Homo sapiens: one gene and its partner. The protein of the gene in region 1 interacts with the protein of each later gene in a pairwise test. Each region holds a gene or a part of one and is shown on either strand. Other genes may lie near its edges. The genes, in order: XPOT and TRA2A.

Region 1 (7,229 bases):
TCAGCACTCTCAATTCACTGACCTTCCCTCATCCATCAAATCAGCCTTAAACACTCTGATCCCTGAATGCTCAGGGAGACTGATTTGAATAATAATAAAACTCAGTCTCCCATACAGGGAGCTCTATGTGAATTACTCTTTCTCTATTGAGATTCCCCTATCTTGATAAATTGGGTCTGTCTAGGCAGCAGGGAACCTATTGGGCAGTTACAAAAGGAGCCTTTTGGGCAGTTACAAAATGATAGTGTTATTTGTCAACATGTTGATGACTAACATTTTCATCTGAGATGAGAAACTGCCCATCCCTTCATGGACGGAGGAGGCAGAATATGGAATGGTCAAATGTAATACCTCTCTTAGGTCCTCTTCAGTTGGATTCTACCAAGTGCTTCTTTATTTGTTCTTTTTGTTGTTGTTGTTGTTGTGGTTGTTGAGATGAAGTCTCACTCTGTTGCCCAAGCTGGAGTGCAGTGGTGCGATCTCAGCTCACTGCAACTCCACCTCCCGGTTCAAGCAATTCTCCTGCCTCAGCCTCCCGAGTAGCTGGGACTACAGGCATGTGCCACCACGTCCTGCTAATTTTTGTATTTTTAGTAGAGGCAGGGTTTCACTATGTTGGCCAAGCTGGTCTTGAACTCCTGACCTCCTGAACCACCCATCTCGGCCTCCCAAGGTGCTGGGATTACAGGCATGCATCACCACACCCGGCTTTTTTTTTTTGAGATGGAGTCTCACTGTGTTGCCCAAGCTGGAGTGCAGTGGCGCAATCTCGGCTCACTGCAACCTCCCAGGTTCATGCAATTCTCCTGCCTCAGCTTCCCAAGTAACTGGGACTACAGGCATGTGCCACCATGCCCGGCTAATTTTTTTTTTGTATTTTTAGTAGAGACGTGATTTTACTGTGTTGGCCAGGCTGGTCTCGATCTCTTGACCTTGTGATCCATCTGCCTCAGCCTCCCAAAGTGCCGGGATTACAGGCATGAGCCACCGCGCCTAGCCTCTTTATTTGTTCTGAAATAATATGAGTTTACAAAGTTGAAAGAGATTTCTACAATTCTAGGTATTTCAACTACCATAAACGAAAGAGCTAATGTTAGTAGATAAACTGTAGATAAACTGAAGATAGGCTTTGTATAACATTCAACATAAGAAGTAGCCATAAAATGAATTTACAAACAAAACAGCAAGTAAAGACATCTATAATACGATAGATTGAATTGCCATATTCTTTAGGATGAGGCCTGGAATATGCTGAACATACAGATTGCAGAGGCACTCAGCCCAAGATTAGTATTGGGCCTTCATACTCCACAGTTGATCATCACAGCTAATATAAGAATTCATGCAATGATTCAGTTATTGAGTTGAAACTAGCAGGCTGGCACTGTGCTAGACTCGAAAGATATACTGAAATAGGTAGGGCAGAAATCCTAGCCTGAGATTTTTTTTCTTAGAAATAACATTCATAGCAACTTGTGAAAAAAGCCATGCCTGTGTCTCCAGCAGCAGTGAAACAAGATGGTGGATCCCCTCACCATTAACCCCCATATGGAAAGGGTATATGTAATTCAGAAGGGATGTGTATTATGTCTGTTCTCACACTGCTATAAAGGAATGCCTGGGACTGGGTAATTTATAAAGGAAAGAGATTTAATTGACTCACAGTACCTCAGGGCTGAGGAGGCCTCAGGAAACTTACAATCATGGCAGAAGGGGAAGCAAACACATCATTCTTCACATGGTGGCAGGGGAGAGAAGAATGAGTGCCCAGCAAAGGGGGAAGCCCCTTATAAAACCATCAGATCTCATGAAAACTCACTATTACGAGAACAGGGTGGGGGAAACCAACCCCATGATTCAATTATCTCCACCTGATCCCGCCCATGACATGAGGGGATTATGGGAATTACAATTCAAGATGAGATTTGGGTGGAGACACAGCCAAACCACGTCAGGATGTGTAGACAACTGAAGTACAATAACATCAAGGCTGTTTTGACGTAAGGGCAGAATTTACAGTATGTGCTCTCACACAACTTGAAATCTTAAAGGCCTTCCGGGAACAGGGTTAATCAGAAACCAACATGGCAGATTAGTACCAAAGATGGAGTTACTTTAGCTTCCAGATTCCACCCATCAATCCAGCTCTTACAGTTTCACTCGCCCTCCTATTTGGAGATGGTCCCTGAGCTTTTAGGGAGGGTGGTTTCATATGATATAGCTTTAGCAGCAGCGCCCTAGCAGTGGAAAACAGATTGGGCCCAGAGAGATTCCAAATGAGGGAGATTCACAGGCTTTGTTGAATTATCTCTAGTCTTGAGAATACCATGACTTTGGTTTTCTCAGAAGTAAAACAAGAGATACTTCTTGTTTATAATTAATTTGAATAATTAATAATTTGAATAGTAGAAACATAATGCATGCAAGGATTACAATCAAAAGAAAATTTGTATGCCAGAACAACAAAGAACCTATTTCGTTGGGAAGCCAACTGAGAGCAGCGTGAAGAAAATTAAGGCCTGACACAGGGACTCACACTCGTAATTCCAACACTTTGGGAAGCTGAGGTGGGAGGTTCATTTGAGCCTGGGAGTTAGAGATCAGCCTGGGCAACAGAGCAAGTCCCCATCTCTACAAAAACAAACAAAAATAGCCAGGTATGATGGTATGCACCCGTAGTCCCAGCTCCTTGGGCGGCTGAGGCAGGAGGATTGCTTGAGCCCAGGAGGTCAAGGCTGCAGTGAGCTATGACCACTCTACTCCAGACTGGGTAACAGAGCGAGACCCTTTCTCTAAAAACAAGAAAAAATTAAAACCCAGTTCTCCTTTAGCGACATCTTGTAGCCACTAGCCTGACATTTTAAACACATAAATTAGAAACATGATGCAAGAGTGATTCAAGGTATTTTATATAGGAAATGCCTGGTGTAGTGTCTTGGACAGCTAAATAAAGGTAGCTGTTAAAACATTAGTTTTATTCTATGCTCTTACCATTCCTCCCTCTCCAAGTTTTGTTTGTAGTCTGTGGCAGCAACCTAGTCTGTATTTAGTACACATTGAATAATCAACAATGAAATGTAAATATTGAGCACATTGTGTGTCAAACACATGTATTAACTCAAACCTCACAGAAACCCTTTGAGGTCGGTACTATTAACAATCCCCATTTTACATACGAGTAAACTGAAGCATGGATAGACTAAAGTAAAGTGCCTGAGGTCAACTAGTGAGGAGGCGGAGTGGCAGTCAAGTCGAGGCAGCCTAAGCCTACACTGCCTCTATGTTGCATTAATAAATTAATAAATCTGTGACCAAATAAATGAAGTGACATTTAGTAGCATCGAAAGATCCCGTGAGTAGGACTTCCTAAGAATGCTCTCCTTCTTTTCATGGACAAAATTTTAGTCTGTTTAAAATAAATTTTGGACCGGACACCGTGGCTCACGCCTGTAATCCCAGTACTTTGGGAGGCCGAGGCAGGTGATCACTTGAGGTCAGGAGTTCGAGATCAGCCTGTCCAACATGGTGCAACCCTGTCTCTACGAAAAATACAAAAATTAGCTGGGTATGGTGGCGCGCGCCTGTCATCCCAGCTACTCAGGAGGCTGATGCAGGAGAACTGCTTGAACCCCGGAGGCGGAGGTTGCAGTGAGCCAAGATCTCGCCATTGCACCCCATCCTGGGCGACAGAGCGAGACTCCGTCTCAAAGAATAAATAAATAAATTAATTAATTAATTTTGAAAACCTGTCAGCACTCATCAGAGCTTTACACTGCTGTACTCGGGACACTTGGGGCCGTAGACAAGCAATTAAATTGACTCACACGTGGTTAGAACCACGTCATCCTGATTCGTGAATCCGTACTCTCAACTACTAGAAGCCCTTTGTGGAATGCTCGGGGCGAACCTGACGCTTGAGCTCTGACACCACGCAGACACAGCCGGGGATTTAGGAGCTGGGTAGGGACTCCTGGGCCGGATGCCTCATCCCGGCATGCACCTCAAGCCCCGGTGACCACGCCTTCCGGCGAGCGCCAGGGAGCGCGTGTGCGCCTCGCCGCCCGGAAGCGCCGGCCGCTCCCTGCATGCTGGGAGTTGTAGGCCTCCGGCGTCAGCCCGCGGGCTGCCGCCCGCACTCTCCAAGAGACTGCTGGCGCCGGCGCCCGCCCGCGCGGCACCGACGCGGGGAGCGCGCTTCGCGCTGACTCAGCGGCGGCGGCGGCTGCGGCGGCGGCGGCGGCGTTAGCCGGCCCTCGCGCTCTTTCCCTTCCTGGGGCGCCGACCCCGCCCGCTTGCTTGCTTGCTTGCTTGCCTGCCTGCCTGCCTGCCCGGCGCCACGCAAGAGAAGGTGCCAGGGGACGCAGAGCGACTAGAGGCGCGCGGTCCCGGCCAGCACCGTCTCTGGCGTTGTAGCTGCGGCCGTGGCGGAGGACTACGGCGACAAGGACGAGGGCCGCTCTCCCAGCTCTCTGCGTGCCGCGCCGCTCCGCTCCGCTGGCTGACCATCTGGAGTGCAGGCTGGGAGGCGGGATGGAGTGATAGGGAAGGTGACTCGGGGCTCGGGGGCAGCGGGACCGGGACCAGGTTTGGTCCGCGTGAGGCTTCGAGGAAGTTGGCCGGGGCGGACCGGCCCGGGGGAGTCCCGACGCCAGGGAGGGTGCAGGCTTGGGACCCTCTATGGCGGTGCACCCCCTGGCTGGGCGGACCGGGTGGGGGTGGGTACGAGCCGGGGCCGCCGCCGAGGAGCGCGTCCCGAGTGCGTGGCCGGCGGTTGCTTGGTGTTTCATCACCCGAATTGCCACGAGGCTTCCTTTAGGGGAGGGATCGGGGGAGGGATGGGAGCAAGGCTAGCAGAGGAGGGTCGGCATCGCCTGTGGTTCCGAAGCCCGTTAGTCATCGTTGTAGCGTTATCAACTGTGGAGACCTCAAACTTGATTCTTCCCCCACCCCTGGACAAAAAGGAAAAGTGTTATTTCTGTGCAGTAATTGGCCAGCACGGACGCTCCATTTCTTCTCAAACCTTCCTCACCATCCTGCAGGACTAGAGAAGCATGAGGTTTCCCTGTAACCAGAAAAACGAGTACTTTTTGAAAGTGCTAATTAGTTGTGGCGGGCGGGGGTTGGGGGAGAGTTACGTTTTATTAAACCGACTTGTCAGCGTGGTGTTAAAAGGCTGGAAAGATTCAGTCGTAGTATTTGAAACAGTCTTCAGTAGGTGTAGAGGAATTTTTCCAAATTGTTTGATTCTTAATGGCTATCCAGGAAAAGTTAAGGCTTAATATTTTAAGTATGTTGCTTGCCTTCCCCCAAGAACCTTTGCAAGATGCATAATTGTTTACCGTATTGAAACATTTTTTGGGGTTTTGTTGTTGTTGTTTTGAGACGGAGTCTCGCTCGGTCGCCCAGGCTGCAGTGCAGTGGTGCCATCTCGGCTCACTGCAACCTCTGCCTCCCAGGTTCAAGTGATTCTGCAGCCTCAGCCTCCCGAGTAGCTCTATTACAGGTGCGCCCCGCCACACCTGGCTACTTTTTGTATTTTTCGTAGAGATGGAGTTTCACCGTGTTAGCCAGGATGGTCTCGATCTCTTGACCTCGCGATCCGCCCGCCTCAGCCTCCCAAAGTGCTGGGATTACAGGCGTGAGCCACCGCGCCCGGCCTTCCACTGCATATTGATCGTCCAAATGCCTTCTATGTGGGGGATTCTTTCTGTAGTGACAACTGTTAACTAGTTTGTTTCCTTGGGTTTATTGGCTATGTTTTCCTTAGGGCCACTTCATTTTTCTCCCGATAGCTTCAGAGTGACTTGACCAAGCTTAAGCACTTTTTCTTTTTTTTGACACAGTGTCTCACTCTGTCGCCCAGGCGGGAGTGCAATGACACGATCTCCGCTCACTGCAACCTCCCCCTCCCGGGTTCATGCGAGTCTTCTGCCTCAGCCTCCTGGGTAGCTGGGATTACAGGCGCAGGCCACCATGCCCAGCTAATTTTTGTATTTTTAGTAGAGACGGCGTTTCACCGTGTTGGTCAGGCTGGTCTCGAACTCCTGACCTCGTGATCCGCCCACCTCGGCCTCCCAAAATGCTGGGATTACAGGCGTGAGCCACCGTGCCCAGCCAGCAATTTTTTTTAGATGGAGTTTCGCTCTCGTTGACCAGGCTGGAGTGCGGTGGCGCCATCTCAGCTCACTGCAACCTCCGCCTCCCGGGTTCAAGCGATTCTCCTGCCTCAGCCTCCCGAATAGCTGGGATTGCAGGCATGTGCCACCACACCCGGCTAATTTTTGTATTTTTAGTAGAGACGGGGTTTCTCCATGTTGGTCAGGCTGGTCTCGAACTCCCGACCTCAGTTGATCTGCGCCCCCCTCCCCTCGGCCTTCCTTAGTGCTGGGATTATAGGCGTGAGCCACCCTGCCTGGCCAGCATTTTTTTAAAAAGCCATAGCAAATTCAAGGAAGCTTTTATTGGACTTCTCAATCAGGGATTCTTAGAAACTCCGAAATCGTTTTTTCTCTCTGTGGGCATTTTTCAGGGGAATGGACATCAGATTTTCTTAACATTTAGGGGGCGAAGGGAACCAGTGCCTTTCTTTGTGTTTTTCTGTCTTTTAAAAATGCTGATCTGGTATAAGAATGCCCCAAGTCGTTTCCATTCCACATGTTCCTACCTCTGACTATAAACAACGTATTGAGGGCTCACTATGTGCCAGCCATGCTCTGCATACCTTATCTCTTTGAAGCCTTTACAACTTTATGAGGCATATGGTCTTTTTCCCATGTCATAGAAAGGGTTCTCTCAGGTTTTGTAAGTTGTCCAAGTGGCCCCAATTAAAAAATGACAAGATGGGGATACAAACCCAGGTCTTTGAAATCCAAAACCTATGCTCTACTATGTCCTAGGGACATAGTGATGGATAGTCAAGACAGTCCTTGCCCTTTAAGATTGTGAGAAATGGCCGGGTGGCTCACACCTGTAATCCCAGCACTTTGGGAGGCCGAGTCTGGCAGATCACCTGAGATTAGGGGTTCGAGACCAGCCTGGGCAACATGGTGAAACCCCATCTCTACTAAAAAATACAAAAATTAGCCGGGTGTGGTGGCTCACCCCTGTAATCTCAGCTATTTGGGAGGCTGAGGCAGAAGAATCACTTGAACCCAGGAGCCAGAGGCTGCAGTGAGCCGAGATCATGTCACTGCACTCCACCCTGGGCAACAGAGTGAGACTGTCTCAAA
Region 2 (7,376 bases), on another chromosome or scaffold:
GTCTTGCTCTGTCGCCCAGGCTGGAGTGCAGTGATGCGATCTCGGCTCACTGCAACCTCTGCCTCCCGGGTTTAAGCAATTCTCCCACCTCAGCCTCCTAAGTAGCTAGGATTACAGGCATGTGCCACCCCGCAGGGCCTGTAGGAGTCTCTCAAAAATACTCCAGCTACTCAAGAAGCCAGAAGAAATCCTGAAAAGGAGGCAATAAGAAGCGGTATTTTTCCTCTTCAACTGTAGAAAACATAAATAACTCTGGAATTACAAGATAGGTCCCTAACAATAAAGAATCATTAACCTCCATGATCAACACTGGGATGCTGTATGAAAATTGCACATTTTTATAAAGTACAGTTCTTAAAATTTTAGGGGTAGAGGTGTAAAATGTTAAGAAAAGATTTCCATTCCCCTTAATTTCTATGAAGGGCATTAACATTTTTTGAGCTCAAAATCCGAATTTTAGTTGAAGCTGTATTGAGGCAAACAACTCATTACTTTTATCAAGACATGCAAAGCCACCGCTTAAGTGCTACCTTCACTCCCAGCTCCAAAGGACATCTCCACTTAAAATTGCTTTTATGGACCTACGTATTTACTTATTTTTGAGACAAGAGTCTCATTCTGTTGCCTAGACTGGAGTGTCGTGGCGCAATTCCGCCTCCCAGGTTCAAGTAATTCTCCTGCCTCAGCCTCCTAAGTAGCTGTGATCACAGGCGCACGCCACCACGCCCGGCTAATTTTGTATTTTTAGTAGAGACAGGGTTTCACCACGTTGGGCAGGCTAGTCTCGAACTCCTAACCTCAAGTAATCCACCCGCCTCAGCCTCCCAAAAATTGTTGGATTACAGGCGTGAGCCACTGCGCCCGGCCAGAAACGATTTTAAAAAGGGCATCTCCAGACAAGCTTCTCGCATTGTTCTAATTCTTTAACCAATTACAAATAAAGACAATTATCTCATCCTATAAAAACTAAAAGACGAAAAATAAAAAGATACAACAGGTGAGCCTACAAGCACTAGTTGATTTACACTAAAATACACTTGGGTACCACTTGTGAAAAAAATATTTCCTATGACCACAAAGGGCCGTAAGAGGGCCCTTTATTTCTATTAAATAAATCTTTAATGCCTACATATACTTTAGCTTAAAAGTGGGTGGGAATCTTTTTTTTTTTTTTTGAGACGGGAGTCTCACTGTCACCCAGGCTGGTAGGTGGGAATCTTAACATGTTACTTTCTTAGGAGGGAAAAGTGACAATTGTCGGCAACTTACTCCTTTCCTAGACTTGATGATAAATTAAAAAAAGAAAAAAAGCAAGCAAACAAGGTCCCTCCAGTAGTCCTCTTCACTCCCCACAAACCAAACCAAACATCAATCCCCCAATTTTTTAACAATGAAAGTTAATTGAAGGAATGTATGAATGGACAGCAAAATTTCTATCGATAATTACTCAACATTTTCAAAACAAGAAGCATTTTACAACTACTATCATATATGTTTATCGCATGATTTTAGAAAGTTCTGTTGGGGCCATCAATACACCATCCTAAAAAATAAGCAGGTTCAATTTTCATTTGTTTCCATGCTCCAAACTTTGTAAAAAAAAATTCCAATCAAAAGAATTAAAGGCAAATTTTTTAGTCTACCGGGTAACTATTATAGTCTATTGCTTTAAATCTTTCCTCAAAGAGAACTAAAGCCTAAACTGACCTTCTGATTTGACTTTTTGGTTCTAGATGTTTATATCATGAACTCCCCAAAAGGACAAAATTCGCCCTTCAGCACACACACCTCAGGTGTTTTTATGTGCTTCCCCTAGTGACTAGAATAAACATCTACACAACAGCCCGGAACGTGTTGCATGGGGCTTTTGTTTTCTTTCCAGGGTTTCACACGAACTCACTTCTACTAACTCACTTCTACAATTCCCTATGTAGGGTAAACTTTGGAAATGAAACTCACTGACAAACGTTCCAGTACATTTAAGCTGGGGATATCGTATTCTTTGTGATGTTTGTATTTCTCCGACCCCAAATATATTAATAAAAACTTTTTTCTGAGCCCTCTTCGGTGGGGGATAGAGTGAGAAGAGAAATGGGAGAGGGCCTGTTAATTTTCAGGTCATCTTTTAAGTTACAGAACAGTATATACTGACTAGTTATCTTAAAAATACTGAGCCAATGAATTCGTTCAGCTATGTAAGATTAAAGAAAGACAGATTTTTTTTTTTTTACCGTAAAAACCTGTAAAGGAGTGGTCAGTTTTTAGATGAAAGGTCATAGGAAGAAGAGCATTAAAAGTTGAGATATAAAGAAGAGAAAAAACCCAACATCGAGGAATTAGAAAAATAAGGCGTGACAGCATTTCCACATTCATTTCGAAGTGAAAGGAAAGTCGAAGGGACATTAAGGGAAAAGGGCTCCTTGCGTAGTTTCCCCTCACAGCTCTCGTCTTAAGAACGCTTAAGGGTCGGTGCGGTCGTTGACTAACCACTTCATTAGGCTCGTCCCACCTTCAACCTCAAGGCTTTCGCCTTTTTAGACGCAACGCCGCCGGTTCCAACAGAGACGCGGCCGCTCACTGAAATAGAGAGCCAAGGAGACACAGGCCCCAGCTAGTCCCACGCCAGCTTCTCCCCGCCCGGAAAGCAGCCCCGCGCACTTTCGATCCCGAGACCCTCTACGATGCTCGGGGTCGCCAGAAATGCCACCGCAGGAAGCACCTACCACTATCCGGACGGAGGGGAGCTCCCTGCCGCCTCCTCCCGCCCAACCGCGACGGGGACCCACACCTCGGAGCAGACATAAGGAAGCCTCAGGGGTGGGGAGAAGGGAGGAAGCAATGCGGGGGCGGGGAGGGAAGAGGACCCAGAAGTCCAGGTATCAGTCAGCCTCCAAAAAAGGGGGAGGGGTGTTATCCGTGGTGTTTGGGGAAGGAGTGGAACCCAGAAGCCATCTTGGGATGGGAGGAATCAATCGCGATGGCTCCAGAGGTTGCTCCTCGCGGGACTACCCGCAACCCCGCCCGACCGCGCTTGTTCCCGTGAAACCCCGAGCATTGGGCCGCCGCCTAGACGGCTCCCGCGGCTTTGTACTCACTCTGCCCTCGAAGTTGTTTTCCTCCACATCACTCATGTCGACGAGGCGCTCCCCAGAACTAAATAAGAGACAAGTCTCGGCTCGAGGGCCGATGGCCTAATTAACCCGCTGACTGGACCGTGGGGAAGAGGAAAGAGTCGGCAACCACAGCCGCTCCACTCCACTCCCACTCGGTCGCAGGCTCCAGCAAAATGGCGCCGGCGCCGCCAGAAATCTCCTGGCCTCCTCAGAGCACGACGTAAAGGGGGCGGGCGTCTCTGTGACGTCACGAGGCTCCACCTCCCGCGAGGCTTTGTGTCGGCTGGGCCTGGAGCGAGGGTGGAGGTTGGCGGGCGGCCTGCGCTCTCAACCTGGGCGCCTTGGAATCGCGGTCCCGTGCTGTCCTCCAAACTTCAGACTCACCTCGGACGCGTCAACCTCTTTGAAGACTTTTCAGTCGCCAGATGAGCCTTATATGACCTTAGCCCCTTTAAATATTGTCCAAGTGGATTCTGATGTAAGGGAACAAAACATTGGAAGCGTTTTTTTATGTTTGTTTATTTTTTGAGTCAGGGTCTCGCTCTGTCACCCAAGCTGAAGTGCAGTGAAGCGATCACTGCTCACCACAGCCTCAAACTCCCGGGCTCAGACGATCCTCCCACCTCAGGCTCCCGCGCGCGCCACCACGCCCGGCTAATTTTTTTCTTTTTTGGGACGGAGTCTCACTCTGTTGCCCAGGCTGAAGTGCAGTGGCGCTATCTAGGTTCATTGCAACCTCCACCTCGCAGGTTCAAGCAATTCTCCTGCCTCAGCCTCCCCAGTAGCTGGGATTACAGGCATGCACCACCACGCCCGGCTAATTTTTGTATTTTTAGCAGAGACGGGGGTTTCACCATGTTGGACAGGCTGGTCTCAAACTCCTGACCTCAGGTGATTTGCCCGCCTGGGCCTCTCAAAGTGCTGAGATTGCAAGGGTGAACCACCGTACCCGGCCCACCCGGCTAATTTTTGTGTGTTTTGCAGAGATGGGGTTTTGACATGCTGCCCAGGCTGGTCTCGAATTTGTGGACTCAAGCGATCTGCTCGCCTCGGCCTCCCAAAGTGCTGAGATTACAGGCCTGAGCCACCGCGCCCGGCTGGAATCGTGTATATATAACAGGCTTTTGGGGGGCACGTTGTCAGCTGACTGTATTACTTTTCTTCCATATTTGCCCTGTGTAATGTCGACGTAGTACATGCACAGATGAGGTTATGATGCAAAGCCGCTGCTCCTTGCCTCGTGTCCCTGCTCCAGTTCCCCCTCCTAGAGACAGCCGTGTAGTTTTTTTTTTATAATGCTTAGCTCCCTACTAGTTTTTTTGACTTAGATATTTCCATAAAGCTTCACAGTGAAGACCTCCCAAATCTGTCAACTTGGTTCCCAATCATAGTAATAATCTCTGAGATGAGTTTTACTTGTGTAATGCAACTTTAAAAATTAGTTTCATCTTAAATTTTTTTCCTACAGTGCTTTGTAGTAAAAAGATTGACATAGACTTTCAACTATAGTTCTATGGTAGGAAAGTTCATCTGGCATTATTATGAAGATTGCTACCACTGGGGGCAAGATTTCAGCATTTGAATGTCAGTTATTGATAGGGATAAACTTAAATGACATCTGGCTCTTAGAAAAGATGTTGAACTTGGCTGGGTGTGGTGGCTGACGCCTGTAATCCCAGTACTTTGGAGACCCTAGGCGGAAGATCGCTTGAGGCCAGAAGTTCGAAACCAGCCTGGTCAACATGGTGAGCCCCCATCTCTACAAAAGAAATTATTATTATTATTATTGAGACGGAGACTTGCTCTGTCACCCAGGCTGGAGTGCAGTGGCGCGATCTCGGCTCACTGCAACCTCCACCTCCGGGTTCAAGTGATTCTCCTGGCTCAGCTTCCCGAGTAGCTGGGATTACAGTGCGTGCCACCACACCCGGCTAATTTTTGTATTTTTCGTAGAGATGGGGTTTCACCATGTTGGCCAGCGTGGGCTGGAACTTGTGACTTCAGATGATCTGCCCGCCTCAGCCTCCCAAAGTGCTGGGATTACAGACGTGAGCTGCCACGCCCAGCCAGGTTGATACCATTTGAACCACTGATCAATCTTAGTACCATTAAAAGTGAGATAACCAGATACGAGATACCTCATGATGTGATGCAATAGAAAATACCCAGTTCCTCCTGTGAAGTATTCCTGATCCCTCAAATTGAACTCAAATCTAATTAAACCTTAGATCTAGCCAACAGTTTACAGGAAATACAAGAAAGGGAAAAATAAAAACACCGAGATGAAGTAATCAACTTCCACAGGACAAATAACCACATTCCCCAACAGATTAAATTCACAATCAAGGATGGGAGAAAGGTAGACTATTATGGACTAAGAGTCTTCCCCCCTACCCTTTTTTCCTTTTATTTATTTTTTGGAGACATAATCTGACTCTGTCACCCAGGCTGGAGTGCAGTGGCACAATCATGGCTCCAACGATCCTCCCACCACACCCTCTCACATAGCTGGGACTACAGGCCCCCAACACCATGCCCAGCTAATTTTTAAATTATTGTAGAGACCAGGTTTTGCCATGTTGCCCAGGCTGCTCTCAAACTCCTGGGCTCAAGTGATCCTGCCGCCTAGGCCTCCCAAAGTGTTGAGGAACCAGGCCGGGCCTAGAAGAGTAGTTTCTTTTTTCTTTGCCTTTTTTTTTGAGACAGAGTTTCACTCCCGTGCCCAGGCTGGAGTACAGTGGCACAGTCTTGGCTCACTGCAACCTCTGTCTCTCGGGCTCTAGAGATTATTCTGCCTTAGCCTCCCCAGTAGCTGAGACCACAGGTGCATGCCACTGTGCTCGGCTAATTTTTGTATTTTTTTGTAGAGACGGGGTTTTGATGTTGGCCAGGCTAGTCTCTAACTCCTGGCCTCGAGTGATCCACCCACCTCGGCCTCCCAAAGTGCCGGGATGATAGGAGATATTTGCTTTATGAGTTATAATCCATTGCTATCATTATTTATTTTGTTGCTTGAATTGTCCCAGATTTCAGTTATAAACTTTTGATATGTTTAAACATATATATAATGTCCTTTTTTCGGAATTGTCTATTTTCCATTTTTCTTTTTTTTTTTTTCCGAGACGGAGTTTCACTCTTGTTGCCCAGGCTGGAGTGCAATGGCACGATCTCAGCTCACTGCAACCTCCGCCTCCCGGGTTAAAGCGATTCTCCTGCCTCAGCCTCTCGAGTAGCTGGGATTACAGGCATGCGCCAGCACGTCTGGCTAATTTTGTATTTTTAGTAGAGACGGGGTTTCTCCAGGTTGGTCCGGCTGGTCTCGAACTCCCGACCTCAGGTGATCCGCCCACCTCGGCCTCCCAAAGTGCTGGGATTACAGGTGTGAGCCACTGTGCCCGGCCTATTTTCCATTTTTCTATTGGATTTTTATCCTTTGTCCCTCAAGTTTTATGAGTTCCTTGTATATTAGGAATATTAGCCTTTTATTTGTGCTTTATGTTGCAAATATTTTCTCCTAGTTTGTAAATTGTATTTGACTTTGCTTATGGTATATTTTGCATACTATTTTTTGATTTTTTAATTTAATTAATTAATTTTACTATGGCAATAAAAGATTCCCAAATTAGCATACTTTTTTTTTTTGAGACTGAATTTTGCTCTTGTTGCCCAGGCTGGAGTGCAATGGCTCATTCTCGGCTCACTGCAACCTCCGCCTCCCAAGTAGCTGGGCTTACAGGCATGCACCACCACACCCAGCTAATTTTTGTATTTTTTAGTAGAGATGGGTTTTCACCATGTTGGCCAGGCTGGTCTTGAACTCCTGACTTCAGGTGATCCACCCACCTTGGCCTCCCAAAGTGCTGGGATTACAGGCGTGAGCCACTGTGCCTGGCCACTATTTTTTTTTTTTTTTTGAAATGGAATCTTGCCCTGTCGCCCAGGCTGGAGTGTAATGGCGCAATCTCGCCTCACTGCAACCTCCACCTCCAGGTTCAAGCGATTCTCCTGCCTCAGCCTCCTGAGCTGGGATTACAGGTGAGGACCACCACGTCCGGCTAATTTTTGTATTTTTAGTAGAGATGGGGTTTCACCGTATTGGTCAGGCTGGTCTCAAACTCCTGACCTCGTGATCCGCATGCCTCGGCCTCCCAAAGTGTTGGGATTACAGGTGTGAGCCAGTGCACCCGGCTGCCCCTGGATTTTAAGTCATAGTTAGCCTTTTCCCATACTGAGATTAAAGAGGAATTCACTATGTTTTCTTCT

Evidence for each region.
Region 2: the proteins of XPOT (region 1) and TRA2A interact in binary tests that used the Homo sapiens proteins (3 or more experiments, as listed by UniProt).

Annotation. Positions count from the first base shown.
Region 1 is NC_000012.12:64,400,258-64,407,486, forward strand, and holds the start of XPOT (exportin-T), read left to right. Parts: upstream 1-4,134; 5' UTR 4,135-4,547; exon of another isoform or gene 4,548-5,503; intron 5,504-7,229. UniProt on the Homo sapiens protein: Mediates the nuclear export of aminoacylated tRNAs. In the nucleus binds to tRNA and to the GTPase Ran in its active GTP-bound form. Docking of this trimeric complex to the nuclear pore complex (NPC) is mediated through binding to nucleoporins.
Region 2 is NC_000007.14:23,528,694-23,536,069, forward strand, and holds the start of TRA2A (transformer-2 protein homolog alpha), read right to left. Parts: upstream 3,289-7,376; 5' UTR 3,132-3,288; coding exon 3,096-3,131; intron 2,578-3,095; exon of another isoform or gene 2,488-2,577; intron 1-2,487. UniProt on the Homo sapiens protein: Sequence-specific RNA-binding protein which participates in the control of pre-mRNA splicing.